Regions from separate parts of the Homo sapiens genome. Here region 2 is linked to region 1. A link means that fine-mapping ties the variant in region 1 to the expression of a gene that starts in the linked region. Tissue or cell type: whole blood. Region 1 holds a variant in brackets; the other region holds the start of a gene. All regions are shown on one strand. Distances are between the middles of the regions.

Region 1 (12,303 bases):
CCCTGTCCCCATTATTGAAGACATGCACATCCAGTGTAGAAACATAACTTTATTTATTTATTTTGGAGAGAGAGTCTCACTCCATCGCCAGGCTGGAGTGTGGTGACTCGATCTCAGCTCACTGCAACCTCTGCCTCCCAGGTTCAAACGATTCTTTTGCCTCACCCTCCTAAGCAACTGGAACTACAGGCGTGCGCCACCATGCTGGGCTTTTTTTTTCTGAACTTTTAGTACAGATGGAGTTTCACCATGTTGCCCAGGAGGGTCTTCAACTCCTGAGATCAAGCAATCCGCCTGCCTCGGCCTCCCAAAGTGCTGGGATCACAGGCACGAGCCACTACGCCCAATGGAAACATGACTTAAAAAAAAAAAAACAAAACAAAACCTGACTCCAAGACCCTTCTGGATGCTGCCCCATCCCACAGGGCCAAGGGGAGCTTAGGGCTGAAAGGTCAGAGCCAGAGAAGTGAAGTTGGGAAGGAGAGGCGCTATCAGCACCCTCGGTAGTCCTCACACGTGCTTTTCCTGATCTTTCCTGTCCACTCTCTGCCCAGGCAGGCCACAGGACACTCAAATTACTGGAAGAGCCTCAGAAGGAAGCTTCTTAACTCGAGTGCCTGCAGCCCAGCCCATGGCTCCAAAGACAACACAGGTCCTACCCCTGCACCACGGCTTGTTACAGCTCCTATTTGGGCACACCAAGATGGGCCTGGGTTTCAAGGCACCCTCAAATCTGGCCCTACTTTAGTAAAAGGGAAACAAAAGCCAATGTTATAAAATTCCAGCCAGAAACACTTCTTGCAAAAGGTCGGTACGCTCTCTTGAAAGGGAGAGAGAAACAATTGCTAGAAGCAACACCTGCACCAAAATAAGCCTTTCCACTGGAAGGATTGAAGGCGACCTGAAAAGAAAACAGCCTGGCTGTGTGGCTCCATGTCTGCTCCTGTATCACGGTTATCACCCCTCCCTAACCCTGGCCTTCACCCACCTCTGCCTGCTCAGCACAAGGGCATTCCAACCTGCACAGGGCCTGGCACAGGATGCTTGATAAACATGTCTCCAATAAAAGCATCCCACAGCCAAACGCTTGCTTAGATGTTGTCATTGACTCCTCGCTAGTTGTTTTCATGTTTGTTAGGTTTGTTTCACCCACTAGGGATATATCTTCTGTTGTGTCTCCCCAAATATGTCACAGTGATGGGCATGAAACCAGATGTTCCACAGAACACTAATCAACGGACAAAAAAGGTTGCTACTCTGCAAAACAAACAAACACATACATGCCTCCAAGGAAATCCCACCCACACAATAGATCACAGGTAAGTAGCACAGCAGAAAAAGCATCTTCTGAAGCAGGAAATTCCCTATCATTTGAAAAAAGCTAACCATGAAAAGTCACCCGTTAGAGGGTACCTTATCTAGACACTTCATATGAATGAAAGTGTACAGTATGTCCATAAAAGGCAAATCAATAGACACAGGAAGTAGATGAGTGGCTGCTTGGTACTGGGGGTGGGAATGGGGAGTGATGGGTAAAAGGATCTTTAGGGGATGATGAAAATGTTCTAAAATTGGATTGTGGCAATAGCTGCACAGCTCTGTAGAAGGTGCTAAAATCCTTGGATGATATACTTAAAACGAGTGATTTTATGATAATTTTTTTTTTTTTGAGACAGAGTTTCACTCTTGTTGCCCAGGCTGGAGTGCAGAGGCGTGATCTCCGCTAACTGCAACCTCCACCTCCCAGGTTCAAGCTGTTCTCCTGCCTCAGCCTCCCAAGTAGCTGGGATTACAGGCATGCACCACCACACCTGGCTAATTTTGTATTTTTAGTAGAGATGGGGTGTCACCATGTTGGCCAGGCTGGTCTCGAACTTCTGACCTCAGGTGATCCGCCCATCTCAGCCTCCCAAAGTGTTGGGATTACAGGTATGAGCCACCGCGCCCGGCCTATATAATTGTTTTTGAGATAGGGTCTTCCTCTGTCACCTAAGCTGGAGTGCAGTGGCAGGACCATGGCTCACTGAAGCCTTGCCTCCTAGGCTCAAGTGATCCTCCCACCTCAGCCTCCTGAGTAGCTGGGACTACAAGCAGAAAAAAAATTTTTTTTTTAAATAGGGGCACCTTTTGTCCATTACACATCAACCAAAACCAGCTGGCTGTACACCTGGAACAGGTACAATATGCCAAAGGTCACAAAACACATAATCAACAAGGTCCAGAGAAAACAGCAGGAGGAGGTCCTCTGGTGTGTGACTCTGCCCACCCCAACGCTGGGAGCAACACTGCCACCAACAAGACGAGATGAAGAGGACCCACGTGGGACCCAATTACAATCCAAAGCTGAAAACAGCATCAAGGCAAGAGCACCCAACAGCTACAGAGGCGCCAGCAGCCTCTCCGCCGCCCTGCCACAGTGAGCCCTGGCAGCCCCTCTGGCTGCTTTGTGTCTTAGCTTCCTAAGCAGTGTCAGACACAGCCTTTTTCCACAATAAACTTCAGGGGAATATTGTACACCTTAAATGGGTGAATCATATGGCATGTGAATTACATCTCAAAACAAAAACCAATAACCTGAGGGAGGGCCCAACAACACCCGGCGCCCAGGCAGGAACCACCCGACACCACACCTGAGAATGAAGCAGGGTGACCCACAGTATCATGGCAGGAATTCGGTAACTTCGTAAGTAAGGGTGCCAGGTACACGTGGCATGTGCCTGAGGGTGTGTAGGAGAAAAAATGCCTATTGAGGGATGGATGGCAGTTACCTTGGTGAATTCAACCCTGCCTAGAACCTGGCCAACATCTTTATAGGCCCAGACATGCACTCTTGCCAGTGCCCTCGTGCTGAGGAGACACAGGAGCACTGGCCTCAGCTAACAGCGCACGGGATGATACATGAGACCACAGCAGCAGGTGATGAATTTACAGTGAGAACATCACTGTATTCTGTCAAGCAGGTTGCATGCTGATGTGAATCAGCAAAACACCTTGGAAAGCAAGCATCAATGGAACACGATGCTTGAAGTCAGAATAAAGTTAGTTTACTGTATGATTCCTAAGAACATTCTCACCAACAGAATCTGTCAGGCAGGCCAAATGCTCACAGTAGCGGCTGAGGACAGCTCTTCCGGAGCACGGTCACGATCTGTCCCTGAGACGCTTCCTTTCTGGGGTGCTGCTGTGAGCCAGTGCCTCTTCTAGCTTGGATGCTTTCTGTTGACGTGCTGGGGGCTTCATGACAAGTCTTGCGAGCCTGGGAAGCCATTCTGTGTCTAGACAGCTGCTTACATCTGCTCTAAATATCACTGACTTAGTAGTTTAAGTTTCAGAAAGCAGCCTTATTTTCAGGTTCCTTCGGTAAAGTAGGAAGGAAAGGTAGAACTTCACTGTTGTCCCAGGAGAATTTAGAAACATGTCTTTATGGTCAGGCATGGTGGCTCACGCCTGTAATCCCAGCACTTTGGGAGGGTGAGGTGGGCGGATCACCTGAGGTCAGGAGTTCGAGACCAGCCTGGCCAACATGGCGAAACCCCATCTCTACTAAAAATACAAAAATTAGCTGGGCATGGTGGTGGGCACCTGTAGTCCCAGCTACTCAGGAAGCTGAGGCAGGAGAATCACTTGAGCCCGCAAGGCGGAGGTTGCAGTGAGCCAAGATCTTGCCATCGCACTCCAGCCTGGGCGACAGAGCAACGCTCAGTCTCAAACAAACAAAAAAGAAAAAGAAAAAGTCTCTTTATTAAGAGAAAACTTGGACTAAAAACATGTCTGAAAGACAGATGTTGGTAGTTGTTGAAGCTGTGTGATGGTGCATGGGGGTTTACAAAATGTGTCACTGCTTTGTATATACTTGAAAATTATTATAATAATTTTTTTTTAAGATGGAGTTTTGCTCTTGTTGCCCAGGCTGGAATGCAATGGTGCGATCTCGGCTCACTGCAACCTCCACCTCCCAGGTTCAAGTGATTCTCCTGCCTCAGCCTCCTGAGTAGCTGGGATTATAGGACTGCGCCATCACACCAGCTAATTTCGTATTTTTAGGAGAGACGCGGTTTCTCAATGTTGGTGAGGCTGGTCTCGAACTCCTGACCTCAGGTGATCCACCTGCCTCGGGTTCCCAAAGTGCTGGGTTTACAGGCACGAGCCACCGCACCTGGCCAAAAAAAAAATTTTTTTTTTTTTTACTCAAATTTCATTTGAGTAAAAGAGTTCTAAGTAGCAGATTAATTGGCTGAAGTTAGGTCCAAATAAGACTAAATTTAACCATGTCCTTACTATGTTAAGACACACATCTTTTTGTGAGTATGGAAGGAAGCTCCTCGTTGAAGACAAATCGTCTCATCTTGTCACATGCTTTCACTAACTGAATTGTTTTTAAGCATCTATGATGTAAACTTTACTCTCAGGCCTGAGAGAACTGAAGTCATGAAAAGGGATTTTGTTTGCTCATTTGTTTTAATGGAGGCAGTGTTCCTTCAGGAAACACAGGCCATATAGTATTCACTTCCACCACAAATAACAACAGTGCATTTTCTCATTCACTGTTCTGCAAAAACCTTGTATTTATTTATTTTGAGACTCAGTCTTACTCTGTCACCCAGGCTGGAGTACAGTGGCATGATCACAGCTCACTGCAGCCTCGACCTCCTGAGCTCAAGCAATCCTTCCATCTCAGCCTCCTGAGTAGCTGGAACTACAGGCACCCACCACCACGCCTGGCTAACTTTAATTTTTTGTAAAGATGGGGTTCTCACCATGTTGCCCAGGCTGGTCTCAAGTGATCCTGCTGCCTCCGCCTCTGAAAGTGCTGGGATCATAGGCATGAGCCACAGCACCTGGCTGCATTACTTATTGCCTTCGCCAAGCATGATGCCTGGCATATCATGTGCCCTACCTCTAATGGTCACAATAAAACTGTGAATCACGTAATAATATCTCCGCTTTACAAACGAGAATGCTGAGACTTGAGGTGGTTAAAGTGAGGCAGCCAGCAGTGCCAGGATGAGTTCCCTGTGGTCTGATGAGAGCCCAGGCACTAACACGACCCTTCAGACTGATGGGAAGAAAAAGCCACTGCATCAACAGGCAGCAGGAAAACAGAACTGAGGTTGCCTAAAAGCCAAAACATTCCTCAGGGTCTTTATCACAATCTGAGGGCTCACAAAGGCCAGGCCCTCTGCCAGGCCTCTGTTTTCAGTCACACTCAATGACAGGGTCACGGACACCAACATACCAAAGGAAACGGCCAGGGCTGGGGGGGAAATGGGCTGGACACATTTTTAGAAAGTTATTCCTTAATGAGGAATTCTATTATTATGAAATGACAAAATGCTATGTTGGTCTTAGAATAGTATTGGGAAGCAATCATGAAAAATATGACTCAAGTGCTATTTTGTATGCTCACAAATGGTAGGGCAAAATTAAGTACATTCTGTATGTTTTCAAAACGGAGACGGACCAACAGGAAAATGCTGAAAGGAACCAAATTTGGATGAACTCATAAGCTTCAGAATATCTAAGCAAAAGTAGAATTCCTGCCTTTAGGGAAGAGTAACTTTCTTTTGGAAAAGCATCAGAAATGGCAAAAGTCACACATTATCCGAAATATGAACCTCACTTACAAAATCCTCGCAGGCATTCTGAATGTCAGCTATTGCAAAATTGCAAAGCAAACTGGTCTTTGAATGTGTTGGAAAACAAGTTTCTCTGGTTCTGAAGTCACTAGAGCTTTAACCAAGACAATCAGCCGGTGACTAAGACAACAATCTACAGTCTGCTGGATAGATCTGCTGTCACCTTCTAAGAAGGACATTATAGAATTCTGAGGGGTCCCAAGTACTACCAATCTAATCTAATTTTATAGGCTTAGCAAGATAGTACTGGGCCAGTGGCTCACATCTGTAATCCCAGCACTTTGGGAGGCTGAGACGAGCAAATTGCTTGAGCTCAAAAATACAAAAAAAATGAGC[C/T]GGGTGTGGTGGTGTGCACCTGCAGTCCCAGCTACTTGAGAGGCTAAGGTAGGAGGATCACCTGTACCGGGAGGCAGAGGATGCAGTGAGCTGAGATTGCGCCACTGCACTCAGGCCTGGGTGACAGAGACCTCATCTCAAAAACAAAAAAACAAAAAAACAAAACAGATGAGATAGTACCTAATCATTTTCCAAAAATGCATAATTGCAGCTGTGTCTACTTTGCAAAGTAAGAACTTTAATGAAATATTTCAAATATGCTGATGAGTACAGAAAATACCCCATGTCTGGTATATCCACATCTCAGTGTCATCAAATTCTAACATTCTCAAGGACTAAAACATAGAGTAGGCCTGCTGGGCAGATCACCTGGGGTTAGGAGTTCGAGACCAGCCTGGCCAATATGGTGAAACCCCATCTCTACTGAAAAATACAAAAATTAGCCGGGTGTGGTAGCACGTGCCTGTAGTCTCAGCTCCTCGGGAGGCTGAGGCAGGAGAATCGCTTGAACCCAAGAGGTGGAGGTTGCAGTGAGCCGAGATCACGCCACTGCACTCCAGCCTGGGCAACAAAGCGAGACTTTGTTCTCCAAAAATAAATTAATAAATAAAACATATGGATAGAGCAGAAACCCTTTGCATACCCCTCATTCAATCACATTTGCTCTGCCTCTTCCAAATTAACCCCCTACCACCTTGAACTTGGTGTCTTATTTCATTCATGTTTTTATATCCATTAAAATAAGCTTTGTTTGTTTGTTTTTTTGAGATGGAGTCTCGCTCTGTCGCCCAGGCTGGAGTGCAGTGGTGCGATCTTGGCTCACTGAAAGCTCCGCCTCCTGGGTTCACGCCATTCCCCTGCCTCAGCCTCCCGAGTAGCTGGGACTACAGGCGCCCGCCACCACACGCGGCTGATTTTTGTATTTTTAGTAGAGACAGGGTTTCACCATGTTAGCCACAGTGGTTTCGATCTCCTGACCTTGTAAGTCCACCCGCCTCGGCCTCCCGAAGTGCTGGGATTACAGGCGTGAGCCACCACGCCTGGCCCCAAAACAAGCTTATTTTTAAAACAAGCAAAAATAACTCCTAGGGTTCTAGTTATTGACAGACTCCCATGAGTGCTATGAGCTGAGGCACAAGAGCTTCTTGCCTCACCACGTGCAGGACAGGAAAGCCCAAAGCCACTCCTGAAATGCTTCTCCTCCTCCTCCTCCCACCCATCTGTTTTTTCTAGAACAAGGGTCTGCAAATGTTTTCTATAAGGGGCCAAATACTGAATACAAGCAGCAATTGGCCTGCCCGTCAGTGTGTGATCACACAAAGCAATCTCATAATCAGTGGGAAAAATGATACTGCTCAATGACATTTAAAAATTTTTGTCAGCTGGGCGTGGTGGCTCACACCTGTAATCCCAGCACTTTGGGAGGCCGAGGCAGGTGGATCACTTGAGGTCAGGAGTTCGAGACCAGCCTGACCAATATGGAGAAACCCCGTCTGTACTAAAAATACAAAATTAGCCGGGCGTGGTGGTGCATGCCTGTAATCCCAGCTATTCTGGAGGCTGAGGCAGGAGAATCGTTTGAACCCAGGAGGCACAGGTTGCAGTGAGCTGATCCATTGCACTCCAGCCTGGGCAACAAGAGTGAAACTTCATCTCTCAAAAAAAAAAAAAAATTTTTTTGTCAAGCTGGGCATGGTGGCTCATACCTATAATCCCAGCACTTTGGGAGGCCGAGGCAGGAGGATCATTTGAGGTCACGAGTTCAAGACCAGCCTGGGCAACATAGTGAGACCCTGTCTCTACAAAAAATAAAAAAATTTTTTTGGCCAGATACAGTGGCTCACACCTGTGGTCAGGATTTCAAGACCACCCTGGCTATCATGGCGAAACCCCATCTCTACTAAAAATATAAAACTTAGCCCGGCACAGTGGCGCGCGCCTGTAGTCCCAGCTACTCGGGAGGCTGAGGCGGGACAATCACTTGAACTCAGGAGGCGGAGGTTGCAGTGAGCTGAGATCGCACCACTGCACTCTAGCCTGGGCGACAGAGCAAGACCCTGTGTCAAAAAAATAAGGAAAGAAAAACTCTATTGGCTATAAATGCACAGAGTAACAAAACAAAACAAAACAAACAAACAGAAAGAATGTTTATTTAGCATACTGTAAGTTAAAACATTGGAAACATTTAGGATTAAAGTGTTAATTTCTGTGCAAAAGAATTTCTAAGGGGAGTTTGAACCGTGCTTGTGGTCTTCTCACCATATAACTTACGATACAGAGCAAGCATCATTTCTACACCTTTTCCAGCAATTGCCAAACACTTTTCTAGATCTGGATCAGCTTTCAACGTTTTATCCTTTGCTCTTTCAATGTCACAAAATTGCTCGCAGAGCTGCTTCACAGAAGAGGCTCTGCCAGTGTTGCTTCCTCTGGGCCACCATCCAGAAAGTCACAACTGCCGCCCTCATTTCCGTGGACAAGAAGCCTTCACAAGCTCCCTGGCTGCAGATCCAGAGTCTCTCCAGTGGCAGAGGGAAGTGCAACACCTCCCGTAAGCTGGTCTACCTCTCCATTTTATGTTTTTTTTTTTTTTTAAGACAGTCTCACTCTGTCGTCCAGGCTGGAATGCAATAGTGCGATCTAGGCTCACTGCAACCTCTGCCTCCCGGGTTCAAGTCATCTCCTGCCTCAGCCTCCTGAGTAGCTAGGACTCCAGGAGTGTACTACCACACCTGGCTACTTTGTGTATTTTCAGTAGATAGGGTTTTGCTGTGCTGGCCAGGCTGGCCTCAAACTCCTAACCTCAAGTGATCTGCCTACCTCGGCCTCCCAAAGTGCTGGGATTACAGGCGTGAGCCACCTTAGCGAAAAACACTGCAGAACACCTTTCCTAAAAACAACTAACATCACTAAAAACAAGTCTCCTCTTTTCATTAAAAACACTTGGAATTCTAAGGATAGTAGCCAAGGAGAAGTTATTTGCTATAAAAATCCCCAGACATGCCACTCCTTAGTATCAAAAAGCAAAGAAAGCTCTGAAGAGTCATTTAATCCAAGAGTTTCAAAGAACTCCATCTCAAAAAAAAAGAAAGAAAAAACATTGTTGTGAAGATTAAAGGAGTTTTTAATCCATTATAATTGCTTAAAATAGTATTTAGCACACAGCTTTCTTTTTTTTTTTGAGACAGGGACTTGCCCTGTCACCCAGGCTGGAGTACAGTGGTACAATCTTGGCTCACAGTAGCCTTGACCTGTGCTCAGTGACCCACCCACCTCAGCCTCCAAGTAGCTGGGACTATAGGCGTGTGCCACCATACCCGGTTAATTTTTGCATTTTTTGTAGAAACGAGGTTTCACCATGTTGCCCAGACTAGTATTGAAGTCCTGGGCTCAAATGATCCACCCGCCTCGGCCTCCTGAAGTGCTGGGATTACAGGCGTGAGCCACCGCACCTGGCCTAGCACAAAACTTTTAACAAATAGTAGATATTGTATCTTTACGATTGTATTTTTTATGAAGACAGGACTAATATAGGGACAGTCAGAATAAAGAGAATGACACATTTCACTACAGAGTCCAACCAAGCATGCTGACGGAGAGGATAAGGAGGAAGAGGATATACAGGGAAGGCCAAAAGTACAACCTCAAGCCAAACCAATGATGTCTTATCTTCACCTGGAGGAAGACAATGGCAAACCACCACACGGGTCAAAGTCCTGCATGGCTACAAGATCAGGATATGCTGGGCTGGGAGGCAGAAAGCCAGAGGGAGGGACTGGTGGAAAAAACAAATACCAAAACAAATGAAGCAACACAAACCCTCCATGCTTTCCACACCTACTTGCACTTGCACTTCAAGCATCTTTTCACCAGGGAATGAATGAGAGCATCTTAAAAAGAGGTACTGAGGCCGGGCACAGTGGCTCATGCCTGTAAGCCCAGCACTCTGGGAGGCCGAGGCAGATCACCTGAAGTCAGGAGTTCAAGAAAACAGGTACTGAATGACAGGAGGTACTGAAGCCTATTTCAATTCTACCAAGCCAGATTCCAAAGGTGACATTTACTGTGTAATCAGCCTTATTTTAAGATGATCTATAAATCTACCTACTTTGGTTAGCTGGCTAGGTTCTATATATTTGAGTGTTTCTGTTTCCAGTACAGAAAGCTACCAACTACCCATCTCCTCTAGGCTTGGGTGTCTGGAAGTTTTCATTATTGAGACAATTCAGAACCTTTCAAAAAAAAACCTCAGGTATTTATGAGGAAAGAACATTTACAATTACAAATCCTACTTAAGTTATGAGGCTCATAAAATCTTGGTGTTTCAGATATAAAATCTTGGTATTTTCTATATAAAATATTTAGATATAAAAGTTTACATTTCAGGCCGGGCACGGTGGCTCACGCCTGTAACCCCAGCACTCTGGGAGGCTGAGGCAGGTGGATCACCTGAGGTCAGGAGTTCAACACCAGCCTGGCCAACATGGTGAAACCCCGTCTCTACTAAAAATACAAAAAAATGAGCCGGGCGTGGTGGTGCATGCTTGTAATCCCAGTTACTCAGGAGGCTGAGGCAGGAGAATCGCTTGAACCCAGAAGGTGGAGGTTGCAGTGAGCCGAGATCGCACCACTGCACTCCAGAGTCTGGGCGACAGAGACTCCATATCAAAAAATAAAAAATTTACATTTCATAACCTATCAGCACAATGCAACTCATCACTACTCATGCCTACCATCACTCCATATTCCACTCTGAAACAAGACTATTAAGTCTACCCTCGCCTCAATCCATAACAAGAACCCGAGCAGTCCATCTGAATAGCTGGGAAGGAAACAATAGTTTCAAATCTTCTAAGAAACTGTCTGCTGTTAATTCGCATTCAGCCATTCTTTACCTTGTGCAAATCATGGACCATTTTCAGAACTGAGGAAAGCTCTTGGACCCTCTCTCTGGAATGGTGTTTCTCAACCTTTTTTCATTACTACCTTCCCCCTAAGACTTTTTGGAAATGTTTTTCCTAATCGCCCCACAAAATTTTAACACCACAGACATACTATATATCTATTCATGTAGAGCGGCCCTTCAAAAGGTCACAAACTATTATAGTATCTTTTTGTTCCCCCACCCCTTTAAGAACATGCCATACACTCTAAATGACAGACCCTGGCATACACATGGACAAACTATCACATATAAAATTGTTTTGAGATGGGGTCTCGCTCTGTCGCCCAGGCTGGAGTGCAATGGTGCGATCTCGGCTCACTGCAACCTCCACTTCCTGGGCTCAAGCAATTCTCCCACCTCAGCCTCCCACATAGCTGGGACTACAGGCTGACTAGTTTTTTGTATTTTTTGTTTCACCATGTTGAAACTCCTCAGTCAAGCAATCCACCTGCCTCAGCCCCCCAAAGTGCTGGGATTACAAGCGTGAGCCATTGTGCCCAGCAGTATCACATAAAAGTGAAGGACTTCAGATTAAGGGACTTCTGAGGCCATGGACCCTGGGCCCAGTCAGGAATCACCCTGAGCTCCATCTCCAACACGTGTGAGTAAAACAACATGTGAATTCTTGCCCTCTTTTTTTTCTGAGATGGAGTCTCACTCTGTCTCCCAGGCTGGACTGCAGTGGCGTGATCTCGGCTCACTGCAACCTCCACCCTCCGAGTTCAAGCGATTCTCCTGCCTCAGCCTCCAGGCGCCTGCCACTGCACCCGGCTAATTTTTTTTTGTATTTTTAGTAGAGATGGGGTTTCAACATCTTGGCCAGGCTGGTCTTGAACTCCTGATCTCGTGATCCACCCACCTCGGCCTCCCAAAGTGCTGGGATTACAGGCATGAGCCACTGTACCCGGCCAAACATGTGGTGGTCTCTTGTAAGTGGCTCCTCTCACTTAGCATAACATTTTTTTTTTTTTTGAGAGAGTCTTGCTCTGTTGCCCAGGCTGGAGTGCAGTGGCATGATCTCAGCTCACTGCAAGCTCCACTTCCTGGGTTCACGCCATTCTCCTGCCTTAGCCTCCCAGATAGCTGGGACTATAGGCGCCCGCCACCACGCGAGGCTAATTTTTTTGTATTTTTAGTAGAAACGGGTTTTCACCGTGTTAGCCAGGATGGTCTCGATCTCCTGATCTCGTGACCCGCCTGCCTCGGCCTCCCAAAGTGCTGGGGTTACAGGCATGAGCCACCGCGCCCGGCCTCGCCCTCATTTCTAAAATGGCTTCTAATCATAAAAAGCATATTTCAAATAAACTTCAAAATAAGTAAACTCTAGCTCCTACTTCACCTGCCAAGGAAAATAAAACAACAAAAAAAGGTAAATAAACTCCAAAG
Region 2 (12,303 bases), 20 kb after region 1:
AGCATGAAAACAGAGAAGTATGTGCTGAGCCGTCAAGGCTTGGAAGAAGGTATAGGCCTCTTCTTTCTTTATTTTATTTTATTTTGAGACAGAGTTTCACCTGTTGCCCAGGCTGGAGTGCAATGCTGTGATCTCAGCTCACTGCAACCTCCACCTCCTGGATTCAAGCAATTCTCCTGCCTCAGCCTCCTGAGTAGCTGGGATTACAGGCACCACCCGCCACCACGCCCAGCTAATTTTTGTATTTTTTGTAGAGATGGAGTTTCACCATGTTGGCCAGGCTGGTCTCGAACTTCTGACCTCACGATCCGCCCACCTTGACCTCCCAAAGTGCTGGGATTACAGGCGTGAGCCACTGCATCTGTCCAGTTTTGAACTTTAAACACAAAAACTCAAAAGGAGGGCTGAGCGCAGTGGCTCATGCCTGTAATCCCAGCACTTTGGGAGGCCAAGGCGGGTGGATCACGAGGTCAGCAGATCAAGACCATCTTGGCTAACACGGTGAAAAAATCAAAAAGATTAGCCGGGCGTGGTGGCGGGAGCATGTAGTCCCAGCTACTCGGGAGGCTGAGGCAGGAGAATCTCTTGAACCCGGCAGGCGGGGTTTGCAGTGAGCCAATATTGTGCCACTGTACTCCAGCCTGAGCAACAGCGCGAGAGTCGTTCTCAAAAAAAAAAAAAAAAAAAAGAGGCCGGGCTCACACGCCTGTAATCCCCAGCACTTTGGGAGGCCTGGGCATCTCCATATCTGTCCTGAGAAACATTCCAAGCATCAACATTCCTGATGCTTGGAATGTTTGTCCCTTGGCCTTTATCATCCTTCAGAGTTCATTAAAAAGAGGTGGCTCACGCCTGTAATCCCCAGCACTTTGGGAGGCCGAGGTGGGCGGATCACGAGGTCAGGAATTTGAGACCAGCCTGGCCAACATAGTGAAACCCTGTCTCTACTAGAAATACAAAAATTAGCCGGGCGTGGTGGCGCGCGCCTGTAGTCCCAGCCACTGGAGAGGCTGAGGCAGGAGAATCGCTTGAACCCGGGAGGTGGAGGCTGCGGCGAGCCGAGATCGCCCCACTGCACACCAGCCCGGGCGACAGTGTGAGACTTCGTCTCAAAAAAAAAAAAAAAAAAAAGAAGGGCCGGGTGCGGTGGCTTATGCCTGTAATCTCAGCATTTTAGAAGGCTGAGGTGGGCGGATCACGAGGTCAGCAGATGGAGACCATCTGGGCTAACACGGTGAAACCCCGTCTCTACTGAAAAAAAGTACAAAAGACTAGCCGGGCGTGGTGGTGGGCGCATGTAGTCCCAGCTACTTGGGAGGCTGAGGCAGGAGAATCGCTTGAACCTGGGAGGTGGAGTTTGCAGTGAGCCGACATTGCGCCACTGCACTCCAGCCTGAGCGACGGCGCGAGACTCGTTCTCAAAAAAAAAAAAAAAAAAAAAAAAAAAGAGGCCGGGCGCGGTGGCGGGCGCCTGTAGTCCCAGCTACTCGGGAGGCTGAGGCAGGAGAATAGCTTGAATCCGGGAGGCGGAGGTTGCAGTGAGCTGAGACTGCACCACTGCCCTCCAGCCTGGGTGACAGAGCGAGACTCTGTCTCAAAAAAAAAAAAAAAAAAAAAAAAAAAAACACCAAAAAAAAAACCTTGACAGTAGGCCAGGCGTGGTTGGCTCACACCTGTAATCTCAGCACTTTGGGAGGCCGAGGCGAGCGGATCACCTGAGGTCGGGAGTTCAAGACCATCCTGACCAACATGGAGAAATCCTGTCTGCTAAAAATACAAAATTAGTCGGGCGTGGTGGCGGATGCCTGTAATCCGCGCTACTCAGGAGGCTGAGGCAGGAGAATCGCTTGAACCTGGGAGGTGGAGGTTGCAGTGAGCTGAGATAGTGCCATTGTACTCCAGCCTGGGCAACAAGAGCGAAACTCCGTCTCAAAAAATGAAACAAAAACAAAACAAAAAAAAAACCGACAGTAATTGCATCAATTGTTTTTTTCCCCCTTTTTTATATTGCATCAATTGTTTAGAAAGCAGACCACCAAAAGGTTTTTGTTTCTGTTTCTTCCCTGGGGAGGACTATTTTATCATTGACACTGTTTAGAAATGTCACTGCAAAGTAAAATAAAAATTAGACCAACTTTTGGTCAGTTTTTTTGAAATGGAGTCTCACTCTGTCTGTCGCCTAGGCTGCAGTGCAATGGCACGATCTTGGCTCATCGCAACCTCCACCTCCCGGGTTCAAGCGATTCTCCTGCCTCAGTCTCCCAAGTAGCTGGGATTACAGGCTTGTACCACCACACCCGGCTAATTTTTGTATTTTTATGGAGATGGGGTTTCACCATGTTGGCCAGGCAGGTCTTGAACTCCTGACCTCAGGTGATCTGCCTGCCTTGGCCTCCCAAAGTGCTGGGATTACAGGCATGAGCCACCATGCCCGGCCTTGGTCAGCTTTTTATTTTTAAATTCTCTACAGACAGTGCACCCTCTTTTTGCCTGTACCCAAAGTGGACCAGTCCTGTCCCCCTGCCTTTAGTATGCTACTAGTTGGGAAACAGACAATAATTTTTTTTTTCTGTCACTGCACAGAACAGAAAATATGACATTTTTCTTTTTGAGACAGGGTCTCACTCCATCACCCAGGCTGGAGTGCAGTGGTGCAATCACAGTTCACTGCGTCCTCCATCTCCTGGACTCAAGTGATCCTCCCAACTCAGCCTCCAGAGTAACTGGGACTACAAGCATGTACTATTGCACCTGGCTTTTTTTTTTTTTTTTTTTTTTTGTAGCGACAGGGTCTCACTATGTTGCCCAAGCTGATCTTGAACTCCTGGATGTAATTGCTCCTCCTGCCTCAGCATCCTATAGTGCTGAGATTACAGGTGTGAGCCACCACGCCTGGCATGGACAATACATTAAATGAGTACATTATATATAATGTTAGAGGCCAGGCATGGTGGCTCATGCCTGTAATTCCAGCACTTTGGGAGGTCAAGACGGGCAGATCGTCTGAGGTCAGGAGTTCGAGACCAGCCTGACCAACATGGTGAAACCCCATCTCTACTGAAAATATAAAAAGTAAGCGGACACAGTGGTGTATAACTGTAGTCCCAGCTACTCAGGAGGCTGAAGCAGGAGAATCTCTTGAACCCAGGAGGCAGAGGTTGCAGTGAGCCATGATCACAATACTATACTCCAGCCTGAGGTGACTCCAACTCAAAAAAAAAAAAAAAAAAAAAAAAAAAAAAAAAAAAATATATATATATATATATATATATATAATGTTAGAAAGTGGTAAGTGTTATGTATCAAACAGAGCTGGATGAGGGGCACGAGAGTTGCAGTGTGAAATAGCGTGGCCAGGGAAGACCTCACTGAACAGTGACATTGGAGGGAGGTGAAGGAGTGAGCCCTGATGATATTCTAGGGAAGAACCTTCCTGGCAGAGGGAACTGCGAGTGAAAGGTGCTGGTGCTGAAATGGGACTGTCCCTGGCAGAGATGGGACTGCTAAACCAGAGTTTGGCCTTTAGACTGAAGGTCATGGGTAGCTATGGATAGTTGTTTTTTATTTTTGTTTTTTTAGAGATGGGGTCTTTCTCTGTCGCCCAGGCTGGAGTGTGATGGCACGATCTCAGCTCACTGCAGCCTCCGCCTCCCAGGTTCAAGCAATTCTCCCACCTCAGCCTCCTGAGTAGCTGGGATTACAGGGGTGCACCACCATGCTTGGCTAATTTTTTTTGCATTTTTAGTAGAGACGGGTTCACCATGTTGGTCAGGCTGGTCTCAAACTCCTGACCTCAGATAATCCACTCACCTCAGCCTCCCAAAGTGCTGGGATTACAGACGTGAACCATGGCGCCTGGCCTGTTTTTAATTTTGAAATAAAACAGCTTTATTGAAGCCGGGCACGGTGGCTCACGCCTGTAATCCCAGCACTTTGGGAGGCCTAGGCAGGTGGATTACCTGAGGTCAGGAGTTCAAGACCAGCCTGGCCAACATGGTGAAACCCCGTTTCTACTAAAAATACAAAAATTAGCCAGGCGTGGTGGCACACCCCTGTAATCCCAGCTACTCGGGAGGCTGAGGCAGGAGAATTGCTTGAGCCTGGGAGGCAGAGGTTGCAGTGAGCTGAGATCATGCCAGTGCACTCCAGCCTGGCCAACAGAGCGAGATTCTGCCTCAAAAAAAAAAAAAAAAAAAAAAAAAAACACAGTCTTATTGAGATATAACTCACATACCATACAACTCACCCTTTATTTATTTAGAGATGGAGTTTCACTTTTGTTGCCCAGGATGGAGTGCAATGGCATGATCTCAGCTCACTGCAACATCCCCCTCCCAGGTTCAAGCGATTCTCCTGCCTCAGCCTCCTGAGTAGTTGGGATTATAGGCATGTGCCCCCATGCCCAGCTAATTTTTGTATTTTTAGTGGAGATGGGGTTTCACCATGTTGGCCAGGCTGGTCTCTAACTCTTGACCTCCGATGATCCATCCGCCTTGCCCTCCCAAAGTGCTGGGATTACAGGCGTGAGTCACTGTGCCTGGCCCAACTCACCTTTTTAAAGTGTATAGTTTGGCCAGGTGTGGTGGCTCGTCCCAGCACCTTATGAGTTTCATGACTGCAATTTTTTTCCTCCCATTCCATGGGTTGTCTCTTCACTTTCTTGATGATGTTCTTTGAAACTCAAAAGTTTTACATTATGGCTGGCTGGTGGAGTGAGGTGGCTCATGCCTATAATCCCAGCACCTTGGGAGGCCGAGGTGGGAGGATCGCTTGAGCCCAGGAATTGGAGAACAGCCTAGGCAACATAGGGAGACCCTGTCTCTACAATTTTTTTTTTTTTTTTTGAGATGGAGTCTTGCTCTGTCACCCAGGCTGGAGTGCAGTGGTGCGATCTTGGCTCACCGCAATCTCTGCCTCCTGGGTTCAAGCAATTTTCCTGCCTCAGCCTCCCCAGTAGCTGCAATTACAGGTGCACACCACTACGCCTGGCTTTTTTTTTTTTTTTTTTGTATTTTTAGTAAAGATGGGGTTTCATCATGTTGGCCTGGCTGGTCTTGAATTCCAGACCTCGTGATCTGCCCACCTCGGCCTCTCAAAGTGCTGGGATTACAGGCATGAGCCACCATGCCTGGCCTTTTTAAAAAAATTATTTATTATTATTTTATTTATTTATTTATTTTGAGACAGAGTCTCGCTCTTGTTGCCCAGGCTGGAGTGCAATGGTGCTATCTTGGCTCACTGCAACCTCCACCTCCCGGGTTCAAGCGATTCTCCTGCCTCAGCCTTCCGAGTAGCTGGGATTACAGGCATGTGCCACCAGGCCCAGCTAATTTTTGTATTTTTAGTAGAGATGGAGTTTCACCATGTTGGCCAGGCTGGTCTTGAACTCCTGACCTCGTGATCCACCCTCCTTGGCCTCCCAAAGTTCTGGGATTACAGGAGTGAGCCACTGCGCCCAGCCACATTTAAATTTTAGAGTATAATTATTGCTGCTTATAATTAGAAGTGAGAAGACTGTTTTGAAGTAAGGGACTTCCCTGGCCACCCTCGCTAAAATTGCAACCTTACCCTCACTCCATTTCTCCTTCTCTGCTTTATATTTCTCCAAAGCACTTATATGATAATAAACTGTATAATACCGTACTTACTGTGTTTCTCATGTATCCCGGCTACAACTGTCAACTGCGTGGGACTGGTTTTGTCTGTTTTGTTCCCTGCTCTATCCCTGGAGCGTAAAGCAGTGTCTGGTATAGAGTGGATACTTAATAGATATTCGTTGAACCGGGCCAGTGGCGGTGGCTCACGCCTGTAATCCCAGCACTTTGGGAGGCGGAGGCAGGCAGATCACTTGAGGTCAGGAGTTCGAGGCCAGCCTGGCCAACATGGCGAAATCCCGTCTCTACTAAAAATACAAAAATTAGCCGGGTGTTGTGGTGCATCCCTGTAATCCCAGCTACTTCGGAGGCTGAGGCAGGAGAATCGCTTGAACCTGGGAGGCGGACGTTGCGGTGAGCCGAGATCGCGCCATTGTACTCCAGCCTGGGCGACAAAGAGAGACATCGACTCAAAAAAAAAAAAATTCGTTGAACGGAATGAGTGAACAAACAAATGGATGGATGAGTGAATGAATGAACGAAGGAACAAGTGACCGCTCGACCTTCTACAGCGACAGCGGCGCAGGCGCTCCCGCACCAACAGCCCCCCACCCCGCCACCGCCAGAGGGCGCAGACAGGCCGGGTCCCGAGTGTCTGTCCCAGGCCCCCGCCCCACAGGATCCCGGCCCGGGAGCCCCCGATGCAGGGACCCGCCCGGGACTCTGGGTCCCCGCCCATACCTCAACTTCGCACGACTGCGTGCCTCAAGCCGACGCAGCGGCCTACTCTCGCACTGCAGACGGGGAAACTGAGGCCTGAGGCGGCCGGGGTGGGGCAGACCTCCCGGCGAGCCCGAGCCCCCGCCCCCGGCTAGCCCCGCCCTGGCCCGTAAGAAGCACCCGGGGCGCGAGGCGAAGGCGCACAGCGCGGGGCCAGGCTGGGTCCAGCAGCGCGATGGCAGCTCAGCGGCTGGGCAAGCGCGTGCTGAGCAAGCTGCAGTCTCCATCGCGGGCCCGCGGGCCAGGGGGCAGTCCCGGGGGGCTGCAGAAGCGGCACGCGCGCGTCACCGTCAAGTATGACCGGCGGGAGCTGCAGCGGCGGCTGGACGTGGAGAAGTGGATCGACGGGCGCCTGGAGGAGCTGTACCGCGGCATGGTGAGCCCGGGGAGGGCTCGGGGGTGGTCGGGGACAGATAGAGCCCGGGCGCGGAGACCCCACGCCCTTGGGGTCTCGGTGCACACTCGCTGGTGCACGGCCAGCCTGGTCTGCACAAGAGGACGAGCGCCCCAGGGCCGGGCACTCATTGGCCTGGCCATCCGTGCTCTATGGCATTGTGCTTGTGGACACACCGAGAGCAACACACAAAGACTTGGGTCTCCAGAGATGTGTCCAAACGCCTGTGGAGGGCCAGGGGTTTAGCATGAGGAGGGAGGAGGCTAAGTTGAGCTGAAACCGCCACGTCTGGAGAAAGAGTGGGGGAAGGGGGGTGTCATAAAGCCAAACACAGACATGGTGACAGGGGAGATACAGCCACACAGAGACCCACGGCAAAGGAAGCAAAAGCAGACACAGATGTGCACAGTGAAGGAAGCTATAGCCACTCACGGACACAGCCCAGAAGTAACAGCCATGCACAAACCCACAAGGACACAAGCGGGGGCTGGGGGGGGGTCACCTACAGTTCAACATATGCTACAGTCACAGCCACCCGCAGACACAGCGGCATGGGCCACAGCCGTAGGCAGACACAGCACAACCCCACTGGAACACAAAATGACTCAAGTTACGGCCCTTCCTTATCTCCTAAAGAAAAAACTGACCACCTTCAAGCACAAGCGCTGATCCGCAGCCACTCAAAGACATAAAACAACAGAAATTGGCCCAGCACAGTGGCTCACGCATTTTGTGAGGCCGGGGCAGGAGGATTGCTTGACGTCAGGAGTTCAACACCAGCCTGGGCAACATGGGGAAAACCTGTCTCTACCAAAAATCTTAAAACTTAGCCGGGCGTGGTGGCATGCACGCACTTGTAATCTCAGCTCCTCAGGAGGCTGAGGTGGGAGGATTGCTTGAGCCTGAGAGGCCAAGGTCACAGTGAGCCAAGATTGCACCACTGCACTCCAGCCTGGGCAACAGAGCGAGACCGTGTCTCAAAAACAAACAAAACCCAACAGAATTTATAACTACACCCAGACATAAAACTGTGTAAGCACCGGGCACGGTGGCTCACGCCTGTAATCCCAGCACTTTGGGAGGCCGAGGCGGGCGGATCACCTGAGGTCAGGAGTTTGAGACCAGCCTGATCAACATGGAGAAATCCCGTCTCTACTAAAAAATACAAAATTAGCCGGGTGTGGTGGCACATGCCTGTAATCCCAGCTACTCGGGAGGAGAATCGCTTGAACCCGGGAGGAGGAGGTTGCGGTGAGCCGAGATCCCGCCATTGCCCTCCAGCCTGGGCAACAAGAGCGAAACTCCGTCTCAAAAACAAACAAACAAACAAAAAACTGTAAGCTATAGGAACAGGTGGACATACAACTGCAGAACCCACCGCTGCTCACAGGCACACAAGAGCCTAAGCCACAGCTACATGTATTGACACACACAGGTACTTCATCACTTGAGTTTCTGCTTGAAGTCACACTTTCAGTGACTTCTTTTTTCTTTTCCTTAGAGGTGGGGCCTCATTGGCCGAGCACAGTGGCTCACGCCTGTAATCCCAGAACTTTGGGAGGCCAAGGTGGGCAGATCACTTGAGGTCAGGAGTACGAGACTAGCCTGGCCAACATGGTGAAACCCTGTCTCTACTAAAATTACAAAAATTAGCCGGGCATGGTGGCAGGCAGCTGTAATCCCAGCTACTTGGGAGGCTGAGGCAGGAGAATCACTTGAACCCGGGAGGCGGAGGTTGCAGTGAGCCAAGATCGCGCCATTGTACTCCACCCTAGGTGACAGAAGGAGACTTTGTCTCAAAAAAAAGAAAAAAGAAAAAGAGATGGGGCCTCGCTATGTTGCTCAGGCTGATCTTGAACTCCTAGGCTCAAGCAATTCTCTCTTGTCGGCCTCCCAAAATGTCAGGATTACAGGCGTGAGCCACTGCGCCTGGCCTTCTGTGACTTCTGTATGCTACAGTGTACACAGGACCCACGAGTCCTCCTCTTCATGGTGCGACAATGGTGGAAGGCATGGCCCTTCTCCCATGGTGACATGCAGTCCCTCTGTTCTCAGACTCACACCTGGGCCCATACAGGTGAACCAATCTGGTTGCTAGTGGCAGGTGGCATCTATGAGGCCATTCTCAGGTGGTGGGCCCCACAGCTGACTGTGGACACATGCTGATGTGTCACACACCCAAGCCAGAGCCACACACCTCACACCTGCAGGACCACAGTCCACTATACGAAGCCACTGCACGATGCCAGGTCCCTCTGCATCCTCGGCCAGCCCCAGGCCCTTGGCATCAGGCTGTGGCCCTGGCAGAGACTCACACACCTGTGTCCTTGCTGAAGCCCCTTCACCACACATGAACCAGGACCATCCAGCCCTGAAGCCCCAGGCCTGAAGCCGACAGCCGGACTTTGGGTTGGGGAGGAAAGGATTCATAACCCCAAGGCTCTCTTGCTCCCTCGACAGCTGGGGACAGCTGGGTCCTATTCCCAGCAGGGGTACTGAGCCAGCCTGCGCTTGGGCCACTGCCTGTAGAGGCCACACTCAGCGCCCCGCTCTTAGCAGCTGAGTTGAGCCATGACTCATCCCACCCACCCACCTTGAGGGGCCTCGGTGGTCCTCCCTTCGGTCTCACCAGGCTGCATTTTGGCCCTCTGGGGGCTGGCCCAAGCCGTCCCCTCCCTTCCTGTCCCCTCCCTTCCTGTCCCCTGGGGGAAGGGGCCGCCCCAGCTGGCTGCTGGCTGCCAGCCTCTCCTCCCCTGCACCTAGTGCTAAGACTTTTCCTTGAAAGGGCAGAAGCCAGCTCCTCTCCCGAATCCCAGAATCTGACATTCCAGGACTCCACTAGGCCTGTTTTCCTCTGTGGGAACTAGAGCCAAGGCGAGAGACCCGTGCCAGCCCCGAGGCTCCCGGGGCCCATGGGCCCAGGCATCGGGCTGGTACAGGGCCCCGGGGCTCTCTCAGCCCATCTGTCACCCCTCCCCCCCAACACCCAGATGTCCCGTCTTGGCAGTGCTGTCCCGGACTGCCACATTAATGCTCCAGAACCCGCCAGCTGGGCCCTGGGGCCGGTGGGGCTCCTGCAGAGCCCTGGACAAAGGCGAGGGAGGGAGGGAAGGGGATCCTAAGCACCCCTCCCTCCCTGGCCCTAGGAGGCAGACATGCCCGATGAGATCAACATTGATGAATTGTTGGAGTTAGAGAGTGAAGAGGAGAGAAGCCGGAAAATCCAGGTAGGTGGGGGGACGTGTCCCCCAGCCTCCCACTTTGCACCTCCCTAAAAATAATAGCAATAGTTCACGTGTTTACTGAGTGCTCACTAGATGCCGGGCACTGGTGTGATGGCTTTACATGTATTCACTCACTTAACCCTCACAAAACCCTCCGAAGCAGGCGCTAGTGTGAGCTCCATTTTCCCCATGAGGAAAATGAGGCCCAGAGAGGTTGAATCCCTTGCCCAGTGTCACACAGCTCAGAAGGAGCAGAGCTGGGCATCGAACCCAGGCAGTTTGGCAGCCATGTCTTTGCTTATGGCTTATACCTTTTTAGAGGAGGGAAGTGCTGTGTGACCCTCTCGCCCTCTCTGGATCTAGTAACTCACCCCTGCCCTGAGTCGATCCACATGCCCCTTGGGCTCTGTTCCTCTCTTGAAGCTTGGTGGGCAGTCCACCCTGGAGTCTGACTTCCATTTGTCTTGCTGCTGGGGCCTTTTGGGAAAGGGAAGGGGCTGGAGGGGAGTAGGTGTTAGTCATTTACTGTTTTGTTTTGTTCTTGGTTGGGGGTTTTAGGGACTCCTGAAGTCATGTGGGAAACCTGTCGAGGTGAGTTTTCTCTCCCTCATTCTCTCCCTGTTCTGGCCCCAAGTACTCTGATGGGGGAGGGGGAAGAAGCTGGCAGAAGGGTCTCTGGGGAACACCACCCGGCCCCACCACCCCCGGCCCCAACCTGCCCTCCGCAGCTCTTTCTGGTCTCCAGGGGTGTCTTTTGTCCTCCTACTTGTCTCTCTCCCTCTCTCCCCCATCTGCTGAGGGGGCTCCATTCTGTCCTCCCCCATCTGCCCTGTTTTTGCCTCTCCTGTGCCTGTCCTTTGGCCACCAGCCTTCGGGCTCAGTCTCCCTCTGTCCTCCCCTGTCACTGCCTCCGCCACCCCGGGCTCCCTTCCCCACCTCTGGGGGCCCTCCATCCTCCCAGGCCCTGAAGCTGAGCGGCCCAACCCCTCCCACTTCCTTCCCTGCTTTAAAAGGGAAAACTATTCATGTTTCTCCAACTAGCTCTAGGGACAAACGTCATTGCATTTCTGTTCGCCCTGGATCTATCTCTGGGGACCTGTCTCCACATGTCTCTGTTTCTTTCTCTGTCCTTATGTCTCTCTCTGTCTCTATCTCTACATGTCTCTCTGTTTCTGTGTCTGTTTCTCCCCCTCCCCCACTCCGTATCTGTCTCCTTGGATCTCTATCTCTCTTCCTAGCTCTTTCTCTCCATCCCTCCCATCGCCCTTTCCCCATCTCTGTCTTTCTCCCGGCTCACTTTTCTCTCTATGTCTATAGCCTCCGCCCCTAACTCCCCCCACCCCACAATCAGAGAACAGGAGGAGGCGCCCAGGTCAGGGACTGGGCTGGACAGGGGCAGAGGGTGCCCCCGCACTGTTCCCATGTTCTCAGCTCCCCCACCCTGTCTCAGGACTTCATCCAGGAGCTGCTGGCAAAGCTTCAAGGCCTCCACAGGCAGCCCGGCCTCCGCCAGCCAAGCCCCTCCCACGACGGCAGCCTCAGCCCCCTCCAGGACCGGGCCCGGACTGCTCACCCCTGACCCTCTTGCACTCTCCCTGCCCCCCGGACGCCGCCCAGCTTGCTTGTGTATAAGTTGTATTTAATGGTTCTGTAACAATAACACTGTGTGGCTGTTTTTCCTCCCCCCGGGTTACCATGGGCTTCCCCGAGCTCCCCCCACAACCTCCCTCTCTCCTCCTGTGGCCTCTGCTCATGTCCCTGTCCCAGCACTGCAGCTGGGCCTGCCAGATGGAGAATCACTCCTCCCGGGCCAGAAAGCATGAGAACGGGCCCTGCTGAGCCCACGCCCTTGGGATTTATATCCTAGACCTTGCCTTCCCTTGAACTCCCCACCCCACCCCCATCCCCAGTCCCAGCAAGCAGGGCCCCTATATGCAGGCTCCTGCAGGAATCTGGGTCAAGGGGCATGCTCATGACCAAAGGTGACCGATATTGACTCAGTACAGGTGATCACACAGCAAACAAATCATTCAGCCACTCCATGAAATCTGCGCTGTGCTTATAATGGCCCTTGGTACTGAGGCTGCAAAGATGAGAGGAAGATGGTCTCTGGCATCAAGGTGCTCACACACTATGGGGGGAGAAGGGCCTGAGTGTGAGAATCAGAACAAAGTGTGCTGAATGGCTCAAGATACCTGGGAGCTTGGCAGAGGGGAGGGAGCTATTCACTCTGGGGGTGGTGAAGAAATCTGGGAGGGCCTCCTGAAGGAAGTGGCATTAAGGTGGGCTTTGAAGGATGCATAGGAGTTCT

What was found.
Region 2: it holds the start of PPP1R14A, and the variant in region 1 is fine-mapped to the expression of PPP1R14A in whole blood (TOPMed, PIP above 0.99).

The regions. Positions count from the first base shown.
Region 1 is chr19:38,271,076-38,283,378 of GRCh38, reverse strand. The region is part of intron 1 of SPINT2 (serine peptidase inhibitor, Kunitz type 2); the gene reads right to left. Among named protein-coding and RNA genes, the nearest start is that of SPINT2, 13 kb to the right of the region's middle. The variant C/T (reference allele first, on the strand shown) is at 5,973.
Region 2 is chr19:38,250,586-38,262,888 of GRCh38, reverse strand. PPP1R14A (protein phosphatase 1 regulatory inhibitor subunit 14A) reads left to right here and starts at 6,515. Exons shown (of 4, transcript NM_033256.3): 1 at 6,515-6,750; 2 at 9,915-9,995; 3 at 10,551-10,583; 4 at 11,443-11,652. The coding sequence starts at 6,550. The coding sequence ends at 11,571. RefSeq lists enhancers at 1-762, 763-1,700 and a silencer at 6,536-6,723.